Regions from separate parts of the Homo sapiens genome. Here regions 1, 2 and 3 are each linked to region 4. The links come from fine-mapping of genetic effects on gene expression. A gene starts in region 4. Each other region holds a variant in brackets. All regions are shown on one strand. Distances are from middle to middle. Region 1 overlaps ELOVL5 (ELOVL fatty acid elongase 5). Region 2 overlaps LOC124901332 (a long non-coding RNA gene). Region 3 overlaps GCM1 (glial cells missing transcription factor 1). Region 4 holds the start of ELOVL5 (ELOVL fatty acid elongase 5).

The links.
Region 1: its variant is fine-mapped to the expression of ELOVL5 in whole blood (TOPMed, PIP above 0.99).
Region 2: its variant is fine-mapped to the expression of ELOVL5 in whole blood (TOPMed, PIP above 0.99).
Region 3: its variant is fine-mapped to the expression of ELOVL5 in whole blood (TOPMed, PIP 0.95).

Annotation. Positions count from the first base shown.
Region 1 is chr6:53,283,957-53,289,107 of GRCh38, reverse strand. The region is part of intron 3 of ELOVL5 (ELOVL fatty acid elongase 5); the gene reads left to right. Among named protein-coding and RNA genes, the nearest start is that of MIR5685, 9.5 kb to the right of the region's middle. The variant G/C (reference allele first, on the strand shown) is at 3,102.
Region 2 is chr6:53,241,242-53,246,392 of GRCh38, reverse strand. LOC124901332 (a long non-coding RNA gene) reads left to right here. Exons shown (of 4, transcript XR_007059612.1): 2 at 781-852; 3 at 1,962-2,122; 4 at 2,249-2,348. Among named protein-coding and RNA genes, the nearest start is that of MIR5685, 33 kb to the left of the region's middle. The variant G/A (reference allele first, on the strand shown) is at 3,096.
Region 3 is chr6:53,122,503-53,127,653 of GRCh38, reverse strand. GCM1 (glial cells missing transcription factor 1) reads left to right here. Exons shown (of 6, transcript NM_003643.4): 6 at 1-693. Among named protein-coding and RNA genes, the nearest start is that of GCM1, 24 kb to the left of the region's middle. The variant C/T (reference allele first, on the strand shown) is at 2,291.
Region 4 is chr6:53,346,878-53,352,028 of GRCh38, reverse strand. ELOVL5 (ELOVL fatty acid elongase 5) reads left to right here and starts at 3,079. Exons shown (of 8, transcript NM_021814.5): 1 at 3,079-3,212. RefSeq lists a silencer at 3,239-3,678.

The sequences.
Region 1 (5,151 bases), 63 kb after region 4:
AAATTAACTGTCACTTAAAGGAGACAGGAAGAAGCGGGGTTTTTTTGTTTGTTTGAGACAGAGTCTCACTCTGTTGCCCAGGCTGGAGTGCAGTGGTGCTCACTGCTTCTCGCCTCCTGGGCTCAACTGATCTCCCGCCTCAACCTCCCAAGTGGCTGGGACTACAGGAGCATGCCACCACGTCTAGCTAAGTTTTGTATTTTTCGTAAAGACAAGGTTTCATCATGTTGTCCAGGCTAGTCTTGAACTCTTAGGCTCAAGCAATCCACCCACCTCTGCCTCCCAAAGTGCTGAGATTACAGACATGAGCCACTACATCTGGCCAATAGGAAGAAGTCTTGAAAGAAGGGAGATGATCAGAAGGAAATGAAAGGAAGTCACTGAAACTTTAAATTTACTAGAAGGAAAATAACTAAATCCCAGTTTTAAAACTGTGAAACCGAGTTTAAAATGTAGAAGGAATATAGACTTGCTCATAGTTTGTGTACTTGGTAGAAACAAAATTAAAAGGAGAGAAGAGGTATTACTTCTATATCTCATTAACTTTAGTGTTTATTTCCAGGAAAAAGGTCATAGATCCCTGATTTGGAGCATATTTGAATTAGTGGTATGTTTTAATTTGAAAGTATTGGACTTTATAGCAATCCTTTTTGCTTTTGCTTATTAGGGGTTGTCTAATATCACAGTCCATGGTGAAAGCTCGGAAATGAAATTCCAGGTTATAGAAGAGAAACAACTTAGTTTGCATTAGTTACTTAGCTTTGTAAAACGATGCCCTTACAGCAAACTTAAAAATCTTGTGCGCCTTTTAGCCACCCGAGATTCAGGGCATTTGTCCTCTGAAGAGAAGCCTGATTTTTTGCACTATCCATGTGTCTTTTCTCTTGTCTCCAGTCCCAAAATTGAGAACCTCTACATACATGGTGCCAAACGGTGGCTTTCCCTCACTCTGCCTTATCTACCTGGTTGGATCAGGTTTCCCCTGACCCATCCAGTGAGCTATCAAAGCCACTTTTAACTCCTTTGTTAGAGTGTTACAGGTGGTTTCCCTCTTAGGCAGATGCTCTGTCCTCATGTGAAGCCATTCAATGTGTCTACTCTTCTCCTGCTGTGCCTCAGACCTCTTAGACCCTAAGCAGAGAGGATCTAATTGTGTTTGTTACAGTCCAAAAGGGAGCAACCCCGTCGATCTGCCTGTGCCTCACGAACTGATCCTTCGACTCAGCAGCAGCTGCCAGAAAACAGGGTCAGTGTTGTGCAGTGCACATGGCTTTGAATTCCCCAGGAACACTGTGTTGAAAGGATGGCTGGCTCCTTTCCTCAGAAGGAGGCACTCCGGCCTTTCTTAGCCGATCTGTTATGCTGAGCTCTACTCAAACCCCAGCAACACCAGGCTCTTTCATTCTTCTGGGCTCTACCCCTTAAAACTCCCACTTCTGCCTGGCAGTCTCCCTCTCACTTTTGAGGACTGTGTGGAAGGATCCAATTCCTCTGTGAAGCCATGAGCGTACTAAGGAAGAGGACTCAACTCTAGAGAGTGAATTTTTTTTTCTCCCAGCCTCTTTGGCTATCCCATTGTTCCCACGGACTATGATGCATTCCTTTCAAAGTACTCTCATGATGTGCCCCTTAGCATCCCATCCTTGCCCCACTGACACTCACTGGCTTAGGCTAGAATGAAACAATGTTTTCCCCACCTTCTTCATCCCACTGTTACTATACCTGATTACTCCACCAAATGGATCCTGAGTATTAGAATACAAAAATAAGCAAATGTCGGAACCACATTTTCAAGTTATTTAGTAGTCAAAGATAAATCATGGGTTACAGACAAGATTATTTTTTGAGTATCTGTGTATGTTTCCTCCCTTGCAGTTAGAACTATATGTTGTGAATAGTGTGAGAGAATGCGCTTTAAAATATTCAGAACATTTAAAATGTAATTTTGAAAGAAAAAAATTTGTAATTTTGAAAAAGCTGGATGGATGCATCTGGCTTGGCATAAATCCAAACTTATCTTTCTTCCCCTTTTCAATTTTTATTTTAAATTGTAATTTTGGAACTATTTGAAAATATTTAAAATAAAATTATATAGATGATATCTGTGCACCTAACAAATGCTTGATTTTTGTTTGTTTGTTTAAATAAGAAAACATTACAAAAATGCATCTAAAGTACAGTCCCTTTCCAGACTTCTTCGGAAATTTGTACAGTTTTTCTCTGGATGTATTTTTACTACATATATATGTATACATGACAACACATAGTACGTTCTAAGATAGTTTTTAAAAACCATACGTGAATGGTATACTAATTAAACTCTTTTTCAAATAGATTTTTTTCAGTCAGTATATTTTTGACCAATTCATCTTGAGTCGTATAGATGTAATTCATTAATTATAATTATGTTAATTATAGTTAATTAGAAATTCATTTTATCTGCTTTGTATTATTTCAGTGTTGGAATTTATTACACCATTTTATAAGTGTTTCTTTGGATGGATATGTATGTTGTTAGATTGTTTTTTGTTGTTGTTTTTTGAGACAGAGTCCGGCTCTGTTACCCCGGCTGGAGTTCAGTGGCACAATCATACCTCACCCACTGCAGCCTAGAACTCCTGGCCTTAAGCGATCCTCCCACCTCAGCCTCCTGAGTAGCTGGGACTACAGGCATGTGCCACCATGCCTGGCTAATTTTTTTATTTTTGGTAGAAACATTGTCTCACGGTGTTGCCTGGACTGATCTCAAACTCCTGGACTCAAAGTGATCCTCCCACATCAGCCTCCCAAAGTGCTAGGATTACAGGTGTGAGCCACTGTGCCCAGCTATGTGGGTTTATGCAAGTTGTTCAATTAACAGTGTGCCAAGAATCTTCTTAGACATATCTCCTTATGCAAATATGGTAAGTTTTTTGACCAGATAAATGCATAGGGGTTTAATGACTGAATCCGACAGTCTCTTGTCTTTAATGGGGAAATTTAATTCATTTTCATTTAGCATGTTAATAGTTATTTTATACCTCAGATATTGCAGCATTAGTTGCAGATCACTGCAATAAAATGAGTATTGCAATAAAGTAAGTCATACCATTTTTGGTTTC[G/C]CAGTGCATATAAAAGTTATGTTTACATTATGGTCTATTAAGTGTGCAATCGCATTAAATCTTAAAAAAAAACAGTAGACATACCTAAATTTAAAAATGCTGGCCAGGCACAATGGTGTACATCTGTAATCCTAGCACTTTGAGAGGCCGAGGTGGGAGAATTGCTTGAGGCCAGGAGTTTGAGACCAGCCTGGGCAACATAGCAAGATCCTCTCTCTACAAAAAATTTTATAACTAGCCTGGCATGGCTCGAGCTTGTTGTCCTAGCTACTTGGGAGGCCGAGGTGGGAGGATGGCTTGTGCCCAGGAGCTCAAGGTTCCGGTGAGCTATGACCACACCACTGCACTCCAGCCTGGGTGACAGAGTAAAACCCTATTTATAAGAAAAAAAAGATAAATTAAAAATAAAAATGCTCCCAGGTGCAGTGGTATGTGCTACAGTTTAGTGTAGCCATGTTCGTCAGTGATCTTAGTTAAATCTTCCAGATAACTGGCTGCAGCTTCTATAGCAGCACTTGCTGCTACACCTTGCCCTTTTGTGTTATGGAGATGACTTCTTCCCTTAAACCTTATGAGCTATCCTCTGCTATTTTCAAGCTTTTCTTCTGCAGCTTCATCACCTCTCCCAGGCTTCACAGAATTGAAGTGAGTTAGTGGCTTGCTCTGGATTAGATTTTGGCTTAAGGGAATGTTATGGCTGGTTTGATCTTCTACCTAGACCACTCAAACTTTCAGCAATAAGGCTACTAATGCTTTCTCATCATTTTTATGTTCATACGAGTAGCACTTTTAATTTCCTTCAGTAACTTTTCCTTTGCATTCACAACGTGGCTAACCTGGTACGAGAGGCCCAGCTTTCGTCCTGTCTCAGCTTTCCACCTGCCTTCCTCACTAAGCTTAATCATTTCTAGCTTTTGATGTAAAGTGAGAGACATGCTACTCTTCCTTTCACTTCAGCACTTAGAGGCCATTGTAGGATTATTAACCCAATTTCAATATTGTTGTATCTCAGGAAATAAGGAGGCCAGAGAAGAAAGAGATGGTTAGGGGGAACAGCAAGTCTGTGGAGCAGCTAAAATACAGACAATATTTGTTGAGTTTGCTGTCTTATATAGGTGTGGTTCATGGCACCTCAAAACAATTACAATGGTAACATCAAAGTTCAGTAACCACACACAGATCGCCACAACAGATATAATAATAGTGAAAAAATTTGAAATATTTTGAGAAATATTTTATAATTGTGAGAATTACAAAAATGTGACACAGTAACACATAGTGAACACGTGCTGTTGTAAAAATGGTACCAATAGAGTTGCTTAATGCAGAGTTGCCACAGACCTCAGTTAAGAAAACCTGTAATATATACAAAGTGCAATAAAGCAAAGATGAGGTATGCCTGTACTTTCTGTCACCTTTTTTGTGTATATATGTTTTCTTTGGCCTTCTTTTCTCCTTTACTGCTTTGTAGAATTTTTGTAACCATTATTTTTTATTGTACTTATTCAAAAGTTATTCATTCTGTTGAGTGGTTACCCATAGATGTTTACCATGCATTTTTAACTTACGACAGTTTCAGTTGAGTCAGTATTTCTATTCTCCTAAACAATACCAGGGACCTTAGAGGATTCTAGCTGTGACCCCTCATCTTTCATGTTACTGTTGTCAGGAGTTATTTCTACCTTTTTTTTTAAAAAAAAAAAAAGATGGTCTTGCTCTGTTGCCCAGGCTGAAGTGCAGTGACATGGTCATAGCTCATTGTAACCTCAAACTCCTGGGCACAAGTGATCTTCCTGCCTCAGCCTCCCAGGCAGCTGGGACTGCAGGAGCATGCCACTGTGCCCAGCTAATATTTTTATTTTTTGTAGAGATGGAGTCTCACTTTGTTGCCCAAGCTGGTCTCAAATTCCTGGGCTCTGGCAGTCCTCCCACCCTGGCCTCCCAAAGCACTAGGATTACAGGCGTGAGCCACCACATCTGGCCTCACTTTTTTTTTTTTTTAAGGTCCTAAATAATCACCATTATTGCCATCAGTGTTTACTGATTTTCT
Region 2 (5,151 bases), 110 kb after region 4:
TGTAGGATCAATCTGGTTAATGCTGATACATTCTCGGTTTTTAAATAGTGTGATTTTAGACTTTTAGTTCTATTGGTGAAGGTACAATATATAATAGAAAGAAACTCCAACAATCCCATACTAAACCTTTGCCCTTTGCTCGGGCTCTTAAAGGATTCACGTGCTTCCAGCTCGTAACTAGTGTTGTCCTACTTTTGCTTGTATTGTAATTGATCTCCTTTCTTGGGTTTTTTTTTCTTTTCTTTTCTCACATAAACCTTCTCTACCTTTTGTACTGCTTGTCTCACATACTATTAAGCCTAATTTGAATTTTTTGTTATAGTCTTCAGTTTCCCAACACTGTTTATACTTCTTTAAACAATAGATTTCATCTGCATGGTAGACAGAATGCCCATGAGTCCCAAGATGTCCATGTCCTAATTCCTAGAACTTGTAGATATGTTACCTTATATGGCAAAGGGGACTTTGCAGATGTGATGAGATGGGGGGATTATCCTAAATTATCTAGGTGAGCTTAATAGAATGCATGAGCCCTTAAAAGGGGAGAACCAGGCCTGGTGTGGTGGCTCACACCTGTGCTCCCAGCACTTTGGGAGGCCAAGGCAGGCGGATCACCTGAGGTCAGGAGTTCAAGACCAGCCTGGCCAACATGTCAAAACCCCGAGAGTCCATCTCCAGTGTTTGAGACGGGGTTTCACTCTGTCGCCCAACAGGAGGGCATATATCCTCTATCTCCCATTACCAAAGATTGATTCAGGCATCCCTTCTTGATCTTTCTAGGAGCTGTGAAGTTGCAGAATTTTGGTTTATTGGGATGCATCCTGGTGCTTGCCTACAGATCTTGTTTTGCAAGTAAGAACAGAAGACTCTGGCCGGGCGTGGTAGATTATGTCTGTAATCCCAGCACTTTGGGAGGCCAAGGGGGGGCGGATCACCTGAGGTCAGGAATTCAAGACAAGCCTGGCCAACATGGCGAAACCCCATCTCTACTAAAAATACAAAAATCAGCCAGGTGTGGTAGCACGCACCTGTAATCCCAGCTAGTCTGGAGGCTGAGACAGGAGAATCACTTGAACCCGGGAGGCAGAGGTTGCAGTAAGCCGAGATCGCACCACTGCACTCCAGCCTGGGTGACTCTGTCTCACAGAAAAAAAAAAAAAAAAAAACCACAGGAGACTCTAGGGAGGCCACCAGGCCTGTCAAGGTTGCATGGTTCTCAGGTGGCAGGCTGGTATCACACCCCCCGCCCTGACTCACAAACTGTTCCTATTTTCATTTCCTTCCCCTTAAAAAAAGTAGAACTATCTCACTGATGTAAGAAGAACATACTTGGCTTTTTTTCTCGTAAGGAGTCTTAAAAAACACACTGATAGTTGACACTGTATATATCAAGGTTTTCTGGCAAAAATTTCCATGGAATGTAGTTCAGAGAGATGCTCCAGAAAAATTTTTAAAAAGCCTCTGTGGTCAAATAAGCTTGGAAAATGCAGTATGTTTGTTCCTGCCTTGGAATGTCATCACATACATAAGCTTAATAAAACTTCTCAGAAGTCTATAGTAAAGAAGTTCTAGTTCAGTTTTCCCTTTTCATATAACACCCATTAGCAGGAGGCAAGAAATGCTAGTACAGAAGTGGCTTCATGTCTTTTCTCTGTCCCTTTCACTTGTTGCGTGGCTGGTTTAGCACTGTAGGTGGCTCTGGCCTGAGTACGCAATGTGACCCTTTGGGAGTCAAGCAGGTGAGTGCATCCCAGAGCCTGCTGATTACCACCCATTCTTCCTTCCTTTCTCATCGACGGGAACCCCATTTTATGTGGGTCAATGAGTGCTGAGGCTCCCTTGAAGCTTGGTGTGGCCATGTGACATAGTTCTAACCCATGAGATGGGAACAGAAGTCTCTAGAGGGACTTTCAGAAAAGCTCATACATGCATTTTTCTTCATCATTCATTTTCCTGCCTAGAGTGCAGAGGCAATACATGGAGATGCAGCAGCCATCTTGTGACCATGAGGACAAAGATCATTTACCAAGGATGACAGAAGAGAAAGTTAGCAAGAGCCTTGACCCCTGATGAGGTGAAGTCATTTCACCAGCCTATCACAGCTTCTAGTCTTCTTGGGAATGTAAGAAAAACAAACTGTTATTTGCTTAAGCTCTTATAGCTAAGTTTCTGTTCCGTGCAGCTATTATTCTAATCAAAATAATGTTTCAGTGTTTATTCCTGAATATCACATAATTTTGCTCTGTAGGTGTCATCTTGGCTTTCTTTATGAATGGCAATTACTGGCTGGGTGCGGTGGCTGAGATGGGTGGATCACTTGAGGTCAGGAGTTCGAGACCAGCCTGGCCAACATGGTAAAACCCTGTCTCTACTAAAAATACAAAAAAATTAGCCAGGTGTGGTGCCACATGCCTGTAATCGCAGCTACTTTGGAGGCTGAGGTAGGAGAATCACTTGAACCCAGGAGGCGGAAGTTGCACTGAGCCAAGATATCACCATTGCACTCCACCCTGGGCAACAAGAGTGAAACTCTGTCTCAAAAAAAAAAAAAAAGAAAAAGAAAAGAGAAAAGAAAAGAAAAGAAAGGCAATTACTGGATAGGGTCTAAGAAGTTTACAAAGCAGGCCAGCAACAGCATCAAGTCATTCAAGTCAGTGTTTCTCAATGTGGCCCCCAGACCAGCAGCCTCAGCACCACCTGGGAACGTATTAGAAGTGCACATCCTCCGACCTCGCCCTAGACCTGCTGAACCTGAGACTCCAGGGGTGGGGCCCAGCAACTGGTGTTTCAGCAAGCCCTCCTGGTGCTCCTTACATACGAACTTTTTAGAACCATTTTAGAACTTAGTTTAGAACTAACATTTTAGAATTTAGTTACACATTCAACCTCAATGAATTTGTAAACCCACGAAAGGTCACTTTGAATGAAATAGTTGAGTTTGAACAGCAAGACTCATGCCCACACCTAACAACAGAGCACAGGCTTTGTGAGAAAAGGTGTCTGGCTTTGCCTTGGAAATTCAAACTGAGATAGAAGTACTATAAAGGGGCCAGGTGTGGTGGCTCACGCCTGTAATCCCAGCACTTTGGGAGGCC[G/A]AGGTGGGCGGATCACGAGGTCAGGAGATCGAGACCTTCCTGGTTAACACGGTGAAACCCCGTCTCTACTAAAAATACAAAAAATTAGCCAGGCATGGTGGCATGTGCCTGTAGTCCCAGCTACTCGGGAGGCTGAGGCAGGAGAATCGCTTGAACCCAGGAGGTGGAGGTTGCAGTGAGCAGAAGGAGCAACTCTGTCTCAAAAAAAAAAAAAAAGTACTATGAAGGTAACAGTGACAGAAATGGAAGCTACCACCACTTAAAGAGTGTGGTTAATTGTGGTTCATGTCAAGGTACCAAGAGGCTAGTGTTGCAATTTTCTTTTCTCTACACTTTGCTTTGCTTTGAGATGGAGTCTCACTCGGCTGCCCAGGCTGGAGTGCGGTGGTGTGATCTCAGCTCACTGCAACCTTTGCCACCTGGACTCAAGCGATTCTCCTGCCTCGGTCTCCCGAGTAGCTGGGATTACAGGCGTGCGCCACCACACCTGGCTAATTTTTGTATTTTTAGTAGAGACATGGTTTCACTATGTTGCCCAAGCAGGAGTCTTGAACTCCTGACCTCAATTAATCTGCCCACCTCATTCTCCCAAAGTGCTGGGATTACAAGCATGAGCCACTGCTCCCAGCCAGTATTGCAATTTTCACAGGAGGCTTTCACTTTACCTTTTCTTAATAACATACTGTTCCCTTGCCTCCAACTTGGTTCACTGGATAGAGTATATAGATAAGATTTGTACAAATCTCAGCAATTTAAGAATTTGCAAATGTGCATAGGAGTGAAGACAAGGTAAGAGTGCGATTAGAAATGCTCAGTGTGGCTGGAAATGTAATGAGCATGCTTTATTCTCACTCTCAACTTGAGATCTCCAAACTCACTCTATTCCATCCCACGGTATCTGCTTTCTCCTTTCTATTAAGCAACCAACCATTACTGAGCATTCTCGATTTTCCAAGGAAGGTGCTCATATATTTTTGGTGAATCCCATGAAGCCCATATTTGTAGCGGACATATGCTGTAATCCCAGAAGCAGAAGGGACCTGGTCCTCCTTTCTCCACTCTCCCCACACTGTGGAAGCTTCAGGGCACAGAGGCGATTGAGAGTTGCTCAGCAGCAGTGGTGCTGAGCATTTAGCTCTGGCCACAATATCCGGTGGCCAGTGCAGTTGATGTCAACATCAGTTTCCCAACCAGACCAACCCTGAGGCTTTGCCCTGCATGACTTTCCCTGCTCCCTGAGCTCCCTTAGGTTCTGCTAAGCCTGGTTCTATAGCCTTCCCTTCTATTGTGTGAATTGTCCAAAACTGATTCAATAAATTCCTCTTTTGCCTAAGCAAGCCAGAGTCACTTTCTGTTCGCTTTCAACTTAGAAGTCAAAGTAACATAATATTATTGCCATCTTTTTTAAGTGAAGACACTGACATTTGGAGGTCAAGGAACTTGCCAGATGTGTAATACCCAGCCTCCAAGATGGCCCCCAGTGATCTTCACCTCTTAGGTATTTATTTGCATAGTCTACTCCCATGTTGAATTAGGACTGGTCTGTGTAGAGTTCAGCAGGGATAATATGTGACTTCTGAATTGAGAGCATAAAGGACTTTGCAGCATCTGTCTTGCTCTCTTGGATTGCTTACTCTGGGCAAAGCCAGCACCATGCTGTGAGAATGTATTTACCATGTCTTTTATTTTTGTATTTTTATGCCTGTCCCAGGACTAGCCAGTTTTTAGAAATAGCAAACAACCATGAGGGTGCGTCACAAATGTAAACCAATCAATCCAGAGCCCACACACTGCCACCTCCATTATGGGCTCTCACCCTCCAGGCCACTATCCACCTGCCCTAATCACCCCAGGAGTAGGAACTAGGCAACTAGGGATAGCCCGTATGGCCCAGAGCCTGCTGAAATGATTCAAACTATTCAATCCAAAGCCCAATTACCCTCCCTCACTCATTCCTTCCCACAGAAACCACAATAAAAGTTTGTGCCCCTGGCCAGGCGCGGTGGGTCACGCCTGTAATCCCAGCACTTTGGGAGGCCAGGGCGGGCAGATCACA
Region 3 (5,151 bases), 220 kb after region 4:
GTCTGGGGTGTGAAGTGCCCTCTGCTTTTTCCCCCACATTGTTTGGGGTTCCCAGCACCTCAGCCACATTGCATGCTGGGTTTTCATTGTCATTGTTGCAAATGAAATGGAGTAGACATGTGAAATGCTAACCTATCTAGGACCTGATCTATGCCTTCTTGGGAACTGAGAATGAAGAAACAGAAATAGATGGTGGAAGAACTGCCTAAGGTGTGAAAAGCTGAAGATTCTACCACTGAAGTACTGAATATGTTGTCTAGTTGTGAGACTAGTGTGTAAAATATATGTTTTCTAGATGATTTCTGAGACTTGTGATGACAAGGAACCTGACCTAACCCCATTTTTCATAAAGACAAAGAACAGCAATGTTAAATTGCCATATGAAGAGAAACACTAGTGATGTGCGTGGTCTCCTTGCCTCTTGTTTCCTTCCCTCTTCCTCACTGACTTCCCCTTGCACAGGGGCTTCTGTTTTATCCCATTTATTATTTGTGGCACCTATATCAATGTGGGGTTTGTAATAGGTGAGAAATATTTGCTTGGAGAAGCTCTTGTGCAATTAGCCTGGCAATGATTGGCCGGCCATGTTTGAATGCCAGTTTCTCTTCTTTGCTGAAGTACTTTATGATAAAAGTAAGCCTAGACATAAAATCTGGAGAGAACCATGCAATAAACAAGTATTTTTGAAATAAATTATTCCTTCTCCTTTATTAGAATAGTAACAGATGCACATGATACAAAATTCAAAAGTGAAAAAAAAGAAGTCTCCTAGTTCTAGTCTCCCCTCTGCAACACTGACTAGTTTCTTGTCTATTATTCCAGATATTAGAAATGTTCTCTGCATATATATAATTATATGTAATGTGTATGAAATACATTACATAAAATACACACATATCTTTTATATATAAAATATATTTATATATATATATAAGAGAGAGATGACATAAGTGGTATCATATCAGATTCATTTCTAACATAGTTTTTGTCGTTTTAGGAGCCAATTTGAGCATTAAGTTCTTATAAGCATATAGGATCACAGCTGCTTCATTTTTAATGATGCATTATGCATTACATGACTATTATAATTAAATAGTCCCTATTGATAAACATTTAGATTTGTTCAAATCTTCTAAATTCATTTGTCTAAGTGACAAGACTATATATAAAACTTATATATTGGCCAGGCATGGTGGCTCACACGTGTAACCCCAGCACTTTTGGAGGCAAAGGCGGGTGGATCACTTGAGCCCAGGAGTTCAAGACCAGCCTGGGCAACATAGCGGGACCCCGTCTCTACCAAAAATTAAAAATTAGCTGGATGTCATCATGCATACCTGTAGTCTCAGCTACTTGGACCTGTAGTCTCAGCTACTTTGGAGGCAGGAGGATCACTTGAGTCAGGGAGGTCGATGCTTATCAAATCAGTGAGCCATGATTGTGCCACTGCATTCCAGCCTGGATGACAGAGTCTCAATCAATCAATCAATAAAAACCTTATATATTCAGTTTAGCAGAATTGTAAAGTGAATACTTGTGTAAACACTATCTGGACCAAGAAATAGGATCTACTGGCACTGCAGAAGTTCCCCTTACTGTGGATTTCAATCCCATCCACAACCCTCTCCCTGTATCCCAAAGGTGATCACTAGACTGGCTCTTTACATTTTTACTACCTTTGTATGTATCCCTAAACTATAGTTTCGTGTGGTCTTTTTGGGGAGCCTAACAAATAGAATCATATGGTATACTTTAAAGAATTAATTGAAGTGTAATGTACATATAGAAGAATCCACAGCTCATAGCATAGAGCTCAATTGTCATAAGAACACACCAGTCTAGCTATCATCTAGTTAGTGTACATTTTTTTATGATCTTGCCTTTTCTGCTCAACATTGTATCCATAAGAGGGTAGCTGTAATTTGTTATTTTCATTGCTGTAATACATTTCTTTATTCTCACTCTAAATGAAATGAAAGAGCTAAATAAACAGTAACTGTCTGAAGGAAACTTTAGCTCCTGTTGGTCCAAAGCTTTCTGGGTATTGCAAACATTTTACCTCCACCAGACTAGGCATCCTGTTATTCCAAACCTTTTCTCACTTTCAAAAACTATAATCTTAGCCAGGCATGATGGCTCATGCCTCTAATTCCAGCACCTTGGGAGGCCGAGGTGTGAGGATCGCTTGAGCCTAGGAGTTTGAGACCAGCCTGGGTAACATAGCAAGACTCTAAAAAATATTTTAAAAATTAGCTGGGTGTGGTGGTGTGCACCTGTAGTCCCAGCTACT[C/T]GGGAGGCTGAAGCAAGAGGATTGCTATAGCCCAAGAGGTTGAGGCTGCAGTGAGCCATGATTGTGCCACTGCACTCCAGTCTGCGTGACAGAGCCAGATCCTGTCTCAAAAAAATAAAAATAAATAAATAAAATCCAAAAAACTATTATATTGATATTTATCAAAGTAAGAACATGTACGTAGCTTAAAGGTCAGCTGGCATCACAAAGCTTACTATGAACAACAGCTGTCTCTACTCCCAAGTCCTATTCCCACCCCTCCAAGAGGTTTCCGCTTTTTAACTCCTTGAGTTATTTCTAGTAGTTACCTCTGTATTACTAGAGAATGTGCTTACACATCTTTTAGTTTTATATGTCTATTGTTTTCTGACTATAGATTAGGATTTAGGACATATGCACCACTCTCCGCCTAGATCATGCATTCTTCCAGCAAATTACAAAGATCAGTTGTATTGAAGTACAGTTTACATACAATAAAACACAACTCAGCCAGGCACAGTGGCTTATGCCTGTAATCCCAGCACTTTGGGAGGCTGAGATGGGCGGATCACCTGAGGTTGGCAGTTTGAGACCAGCCTGACCAACATGGAGAAACCCCGTCTCTACTAAAAATACAAAATTAGCCGGACGTGCTGGCACATGCCTGTAATCCCAGCTACTCAGGAGGCTGAGGCAGGAGAATCACTTGAACAGGGGAGGTGGAGGTTGCGGTGAGCCGAGATTGCGCCATTGCGCTTCAGGCTGGGCAACAAGAGCGAAACTCCGTCTCAAAACGAAAAACAAACAAACAAAAAACTCCACTCATTTTACAGAGTTTTGAACACTGTACATGTGGTCATTGTATACAATGAAACCTCACCAAAATCAAGATATAGAACATGGCAGTTCCCCTGAAAAGTCCTGCTGTGCCTTTTGCAGTCAATTCCCTCTGGGATCCCCAGCCCCCAGCAACTCCTGGAGCCTTTTATCTCTGAACAAGTGTGGGCAGGCTGCTGTCTGATCCTGTTGCTCCTTCATCTTTGGGCTTACTTTCCTCCCCTCTTGATTGGGTTCATGTCTTTCTTATTCTGGGTGTATTTCATCATTTTGGTAGAGCACACACCCTACTAGTTCTCTAAGAAAAGATCCATGGGAGATACATTTTTGGAGCACTTGAATGCCTGGAAATGTCTTAATCACATACTTGGTTTTTGTTTTTGTTCTTTGACTTGGCACAGAGTTTACCTGAGATTAGAAATGCAGGTTGAAAGTAATTTTCATACAAAATGGCCAGGTGCAGCGGCTCACGCCTGTAATCCCAGCACTTTGGGAGGGCAAGGTGGGTGGATCACCTGAGGTCAGGAGTTCGAGACCAGCCTGGCCAACATGGTGAAACCCCGTCTCTACTAAAAATACAAAAACAAAATTAGCCAGGTGTAGTGGCGCATGCCTGTAGGCCCAGCTACTGGGGAGGCTGAGGCAGGAGAATCACTTGAACCTGGGAGGTAGAGGTTGCAGTGAGCCGAGATCGCTCCGTTGCACTCAAGCCTGGGGTACAAGGGCAAAACTCTGTCCAAAAAAAAGAAAAAAGGCTGGGCGCAGTGGCTCATGCCTGCCTGTAATCCCAGCAATTTGGGAGGCCGAGGCAGGTGAATCACAAGGTCAGGAGTTTGAGACCAGCCTGGCCAATGTGGTCAAACGCCATCTCTACTAAAAATACAAAAAAAGAAATTAGCTAGGTGTGGTGGCCCATGCCTGTGGTCCCAGCTGCTCGGGAGGCTGAGGCAGAAGAATCGCTTGAACCTGGGAGGCAGAGGTTGCAGTGAGCCAAGATCGTGCCACTGCACTCCAGCCCGGGCAACAGAGTGAGACTGTCTCAAAAAAGTTCAAAAATCTGAAGTTACTGGTCCACTGTCCTCTAGTATTCAGAGCTGCTGTTGAGAAGTCTGGATATCATTTAGATTTCTGGTCCTTTGAACATGGCCTGCTTTTTCTCTCTAGGAGCTTTCAGATAGTTTAATTATTTCTCGTTACTTGAAATTTCATGACAATAAGGCTTGAATGGGCCTTTTCATTTTTTATTCATTGTATAAGGCCCTGAGGCTTTTTTTTTTTTTTTTTGAGACAGTCTCGCTCTGTCGCCCAGGCTGGAGGGCAGTGGCATGATCTCGGCTCACTGCAACCTCTGCCTCCCAGGTTCAAGCAATTCTTCTGCTTCAGCATCCTGAGCAGATGGGACCACAGGCGCCCGCCACCACGTCTGGCTAATTTTTTGTATTTTTAGTAGAGACGGGGTTTCACTGTCTTAGCCAGGATGGTCTCCATCTCCTGACCTTGTGATCCACCTGCCTCAGCCTCCCAAGGTGCTGGGATTACTGGCATGAGCCACCGCGCCCGGCCAGTGGCTTTTAATATAATCATTCATATTTTTTATTTCTTGGATATGTTCTTATATTTTTCAAAAATTTTTTTCTTTCTTTTTTCCGGTTGTCTTTTTGGAACTTTTTTCAGATGAGTATTGCATTCAACAAATTTTCACGGAGCACCTAAGAATGCTCTCATCCTGGGTGCTGTGCTTATGTGGGCTGCTCTGCCAGGCAAAACGGCATCTGCTCTGTTTAGTGAGCATTGACTGAGGGCAAGAAAGACACTTGGGCCTAGAAAATGTTACAGGATATTACATTGAATCCTGAGTGTAAGGATTCAAACCTGTTAAGGTTAAGATAAAATACAAATAGAAAAATGTGAAAGGGGTTGGGCATGGTGGCTCACTCCTGTAATCCCAGCACTTTGGGAGGCCAAGGTGGGTGGCTTACTTGAGGTCAGGGCTTTGAGACCAGCCTGGCCAACATAGTGAAACCCCATCTCTACTAAAAAGACAA
Region 4 (5,151 bases):
CCGAGGTGGGTGGATCACCTGAGTTCGGGAGTTCAAGACCAGCCTGGCCAACATGGCGAAACTCCATCTCTACTAAAAATACAAAAAAATTAGCCAGGTGTGGTGGCGGGCGCTCCCAGCTACTTGGGAGGCTGAGGCAGGAGAATTGCTTGAACCTGGGAGGTGGAGGTTGCAATGAGCCAAGATCGTGCCATTGCACCCCAGCCTGAGCAACAAGAGCGAAACTCCATCTCAAAAATAAATAAATAAATAAATAAATAAATACATGAAGGAGAAAGAAGAAAATATTAATAGTTAGCTATTGAATGAAGATAATTCAACAATCATTTCTTGGGGGACTACCATGTGGATGCTATGAACAAACAGGTAATAGTTACAAGGTTTTGTTAACTGTACCTTACATGGGCTCACATTGTTGGATAGGTGGGTTAGAAGGGCAAGGATGGCTTCAGCACAGTTTCCAGAACCCAGCTGGCCAGGAATCTGATTCTGATGCTACCTAAAACAGGTTCCTTGAGCCCTGTTATTTAGTAAGCCTGGCATTGGATCCTAGGTATTCTTTTGATTTATTTGGAAAAAATCCCACAGTTAAGTTGGGGAGTCGTTTCGGCTCCACTGTTTTTCTTACAGCTTTACTCATGAGTGCAATGATGCAGAAATACGAAGTAATTGTTAGGGTGGGAGGAAGTTTCCCCCAGAGATATATGACACATGATAAACATTACATTGTAATATGTAAAATAATACATTTGCATATATATATATGTTCTGAGAACTCTAAGTCTCTGGCTGGAGAACTAATGAGAACATGACCGTACCAACATGTTTGAGAGGAGTTAATAATCTAATAATCCTGGGATGTGACTATCTGACAGAGGATTGGAACTCTGGAGCTGAAAAGTGATGGTGATGGTGAGGGGGAGTAACTGTTCACAGATTCACTCATCTAACACGTATTTATTGAGCCCTTATATGCCAGGGATTGTACTAAGATCTACAGATCAATAAGGAGCAAAATTCAACATGTTTTCCCCTTCAACGGAGTTTACTACCTAAAGCGGTGGTCTTTAAAGTGGGGTACATATACCCCAAGGATTGAGTGAGATGATGCCATCAGAAAGCAACTACAATACAGGGTGGTGATGCTATAATGGAAACCAAGATACACACATCAACAAAGAACTGTGTAAAAACGCAGCCTTTGGGGGATGGGAAAAAACAGCAAAACGTCATACTTAATCATACAATAAGAAAAATCACTTGATATTTAATGCATAGCTTGACAGTTATATAAGCCTGAACTTAAAGATATTTTGGTCAAATGGGCTTAAAACATTTTATTGATAGGTAAGCACAATTCAAACAAGTGCGGCGTAAAACTTAAGACTTTTGGAATCTCAAGTTAAATTAGAAACTTTTAAAACCTGGAAAGGCAAAACTTAGATGGGATGACAGAGATGAACCCTGGCCTTGGACTACTGGCAGAAGCGTGAAGAATGAAGGAGATATCTCAAAAAAATAGTCTATGCCACCAGCATATGCTTTTCTCATGTCCCTTGATGTCCATAGCAGCATTTACCACTCTGCATTGTAGTTGCTTCCTGACTGTATCATTTTCCAGGCCCAAGAAGTCCTTGAAGGTTTCAAATTTTGAATACCTAACATAGTATCTAGCAAATTGAAGTCATTCAGTGTTTGTGGAGCTCAATGGCAACTGACAATCTCGATTCTTTGTATATGTTTAATTTACTTAATTTGTACATGGTTTGTATACTTGCATTCCTATTGCAATGGCCCACTGCCTGGAACACAGCTGGCACGTGATAAGCATTACATTGTAAATATGTAAAAGAATAAATTTGCCGGCCAGGCTCGGTGACTCACGTCTGTAATCCCAGCACTTTGGCAAGCTGAGGCGAGCGGATTACCTGAGGTCAGGAGTTCGAGACCAGCCTGGCCAACATGGCGAAACCTCATCTCTACTAAAAATACAAAAATTAGTCGGGTGTGGTGGCGCGTGCCTGTAATTCCAGCTACTTGGGAGGCTGAGGCAGGAGAATCGCTTGAACCCGGAAGGTGGAGGTTGCAGTGAGCTGAGATCGCGCCACTGCACTCCAGCCTGGGCAACAGAGCGAGACTCTGTCTCAAAAAAGAAAAAAAAAGAAAAAAAAGAATAAATTTGCCTACATTAAATAGCCGACTGTTAGGTGGATGCACATAGAGGAGTAAGAATACAGCAAGAGGGGCACACGAAGAAAGGCTAAATCTCTGGGGTTTGAATGGGGAAACAGTAGGATACAAAGCTAATGAAGGTCTTTAATTATCCAAATATCAGTGAAAAACAGCAAGGATCTTCCGTTTATGCCCTGAACCCCCTTTGTCTTAAGTGCTTAAATATGCTTAGCTGAAAAGACACTGATTCCATCTTTCCTCATTTAACAATCCTTTAGAATAATTTCTAGAGTAGAAATGGAGTTGATAGTGGCTTCCAAAGAAAAATCAGAATCCCTAAGAAAAATACACGGTAAATCCTTTGCAAGGGAGTTATGGTTACAACAGTTTTGAGTCGTTTTGTTCTTGTTCCTTTATCTTGTTCAACTGCAGACCTTCACTCCGGCGGTCTCCGTGGGCATTTAACCCTTTCAGCTTTAACGATGAAGTGGATCCCCTTCAGCATGACATAACTCATAGAGGAGACCGTAACGAGGGTGGGCTTCTGCCACCCAAATGCGGCCACAGACTCCTGCCACGCCTGGCAGTAAAAAAACCAGAGTTCAGGGCATCGACAACTTCACCGGGGCTATTGCGCAGGCTCTGCGTTCCACGCAGGCTTATTAGGAAGAAAGGGGAAAAAAATTTCCCAGAGACACGTGGAACCGAGGGGCCAACCCCGGCCTAGGCTCTCCACCGCATCGGATTCTGGAATTTACGATCACGAAAGTTCTATTGTCCCGCGATTGGCTCCCGGGCCGCATGACATCATAGCGCTTGATTCATCCTTCGGGTCCCGATTGGCTGGCCGCGCCATTGTGACGTCACGGTCAGCCCACGTTCTGATTGTAGATAGCCGGCGCCTTCCTCTTCCCATCGCGCGGGTCCTAGCCACCGGTGTCTCCTTCTACATCCGCCTCTGCGCCGGCTGCCACCCGCGCTCCCTCCGCCGCCGCCGCCTTGCTGCTGCTCAAAGCTGCTGCCGCCCCTTGGGCTAAAAGGTAAAGCCGTCAGCTCCGGGAAACTTCGTCGGGGGCCGCCGCTCGGCCATGACACCCGCGCGAGCGCGCGGCCGGGAAGCGGTCAGAGAGAACTGCCGTTAGGTCTCGGACCTGGTGCCGAGAAAGAGCTGCCGGGGCAACCCGCGCTCCGCCCGCGGCCTCCAGCTCCGCCGGCTCCGGGGTACAGCCCGGCTCCTCGGGCGCGGGGAAAGGGGTGCGGGTGCGGGCGCGGGCGGCTCGCCCCACGCCGAGGCTGAGGCAGGGCGCTCGGGAGCGTTCTCTGTGCTGCGGTCCCACCTGTGCGCGCTGACAGGCGCCGCGGGGCACGACACCGTGCCCACACCAGACGCGGAGGGATGGATCTGTCCGCCTGGGTCCTCCCGCCCTGCGGGCCGGAGCGCGCGGCGGGAGAGCCGGGGGAGCGCTCTCGGAGGGAGCGCGCTTTCTTTGGAGTCGGCGAAACCCGGGTGAGTTCGAAGAGCCTGTGCGAGGGTCTGCGGGCACCGGGCGCCGCTGGGGGGACTCTCCGGCCTTTCCTTTTTGTCCTGTTCTCTCCGCTTCCGTTAACCCTGCGGACCTTCCGTCCGCCCCTCGGAGGGAAGCCTGCTAGCTCGGGACCGCTTCAGTTTTTATTGAAACCAGACAACGGCAGCCCTTGGTACTCAGGGAGGGATGAGGCTGGTGGGAAAGCGAGAGGGCGGGGACTCGGGGGCGACCGGGGCGGCCCTTTCTGGGAGCCTGATCCCTGGAGAGGCGGGAGCGGTTGGCTGCGAGGGAGGCGCGCGGCGGGGGGGCGGTTGTGCTCTGCGCCGGGGGAGCTAGAGTGTGTGTTGTCTTGCGAGTTGTAAGGAAAAGTGCCTTTTTACTGTTTCCACGCCGGTAAGACTCTCCCACCCCACCACCTCGGGTCGACGGAGCAATGCCTAGAGCAAGAGTTGTTCTTGCTGAACTGCGTCTTGCAACCGTTCCGTGTTCTTGCACTTGGCGGTTCCCCCCGCCCCATCCACAATTGTGAATTAAGCTCCTTGATTGCAAATTTGGAGAATGCATTTGGCCAGTTATGCAAAGTGGCGGAGGTGGCGGGGTCGGGGGCGGGGGGTCTCTTTCGGAAGAATCCAGTGCATGGTTTATTAGCTAGACTGAGGAACCGAGAGGTGCTAGATGGGATTTGTGGGGAGCGAGCAGCCTAATTTGTTTTAAATAGCGGGACCCGTGGCAGGAAGTGCTTCATAGAATTGTACGGAAGAGCTGATGTTGCTTGTCAGGTTTTGTAACTCATTCTCCTAACCGCTTGGCAGATAACCTGTTGGTCTGCACTTGTTTTGCTTGCACGTCTCAGCCAAAAGCATTTCGTGCAGAATCTACAGATAGAAACAGGCGGTTTTGCATTAGATGGCCGTGGACAAACATTTTAGCCTTCCATCTGTGATTGGGGACAAGTGGGTTACTTTTCTGGTAGCTCAGACACTGCCTGGGATTCTCCAGGAAAGCTCTGCACTTGAAAGGGAAATGTTACTCATTTTCCTTTTAGATTTTTACCCTAGATTCTAACTTCTTATTGCCAGGAACTTTTTCTGTACTGTTTCTCTTTTTGCATTTTCGTTTCTATTTCTAATTGAAGACAAAGGGGAAATTTTTATTGATAGTTACAGATAGGTAATGTTACAGAATGTAGTACAGAACTTTGCTGAAAAGCGACAGTAGAAGGCTTACTAAAATTTGATGTTTTTCAAGAAAAATATCTTGTAACTTCAGATATTGACCTCACCTCCTTGACTCAATTTCCTTGTCTATACATGGGGATTTTATGTGGCAGGATCATTGTGGATTTCAAGAGATAATGCAAATGAGAGCCCAGCATTGAGTCTGCCAAATGGTGGTTTGAAAATGTTTCCTTCCCATTCCCTGAAATCAACAGCTTCTTCTTGGTTACAGACCT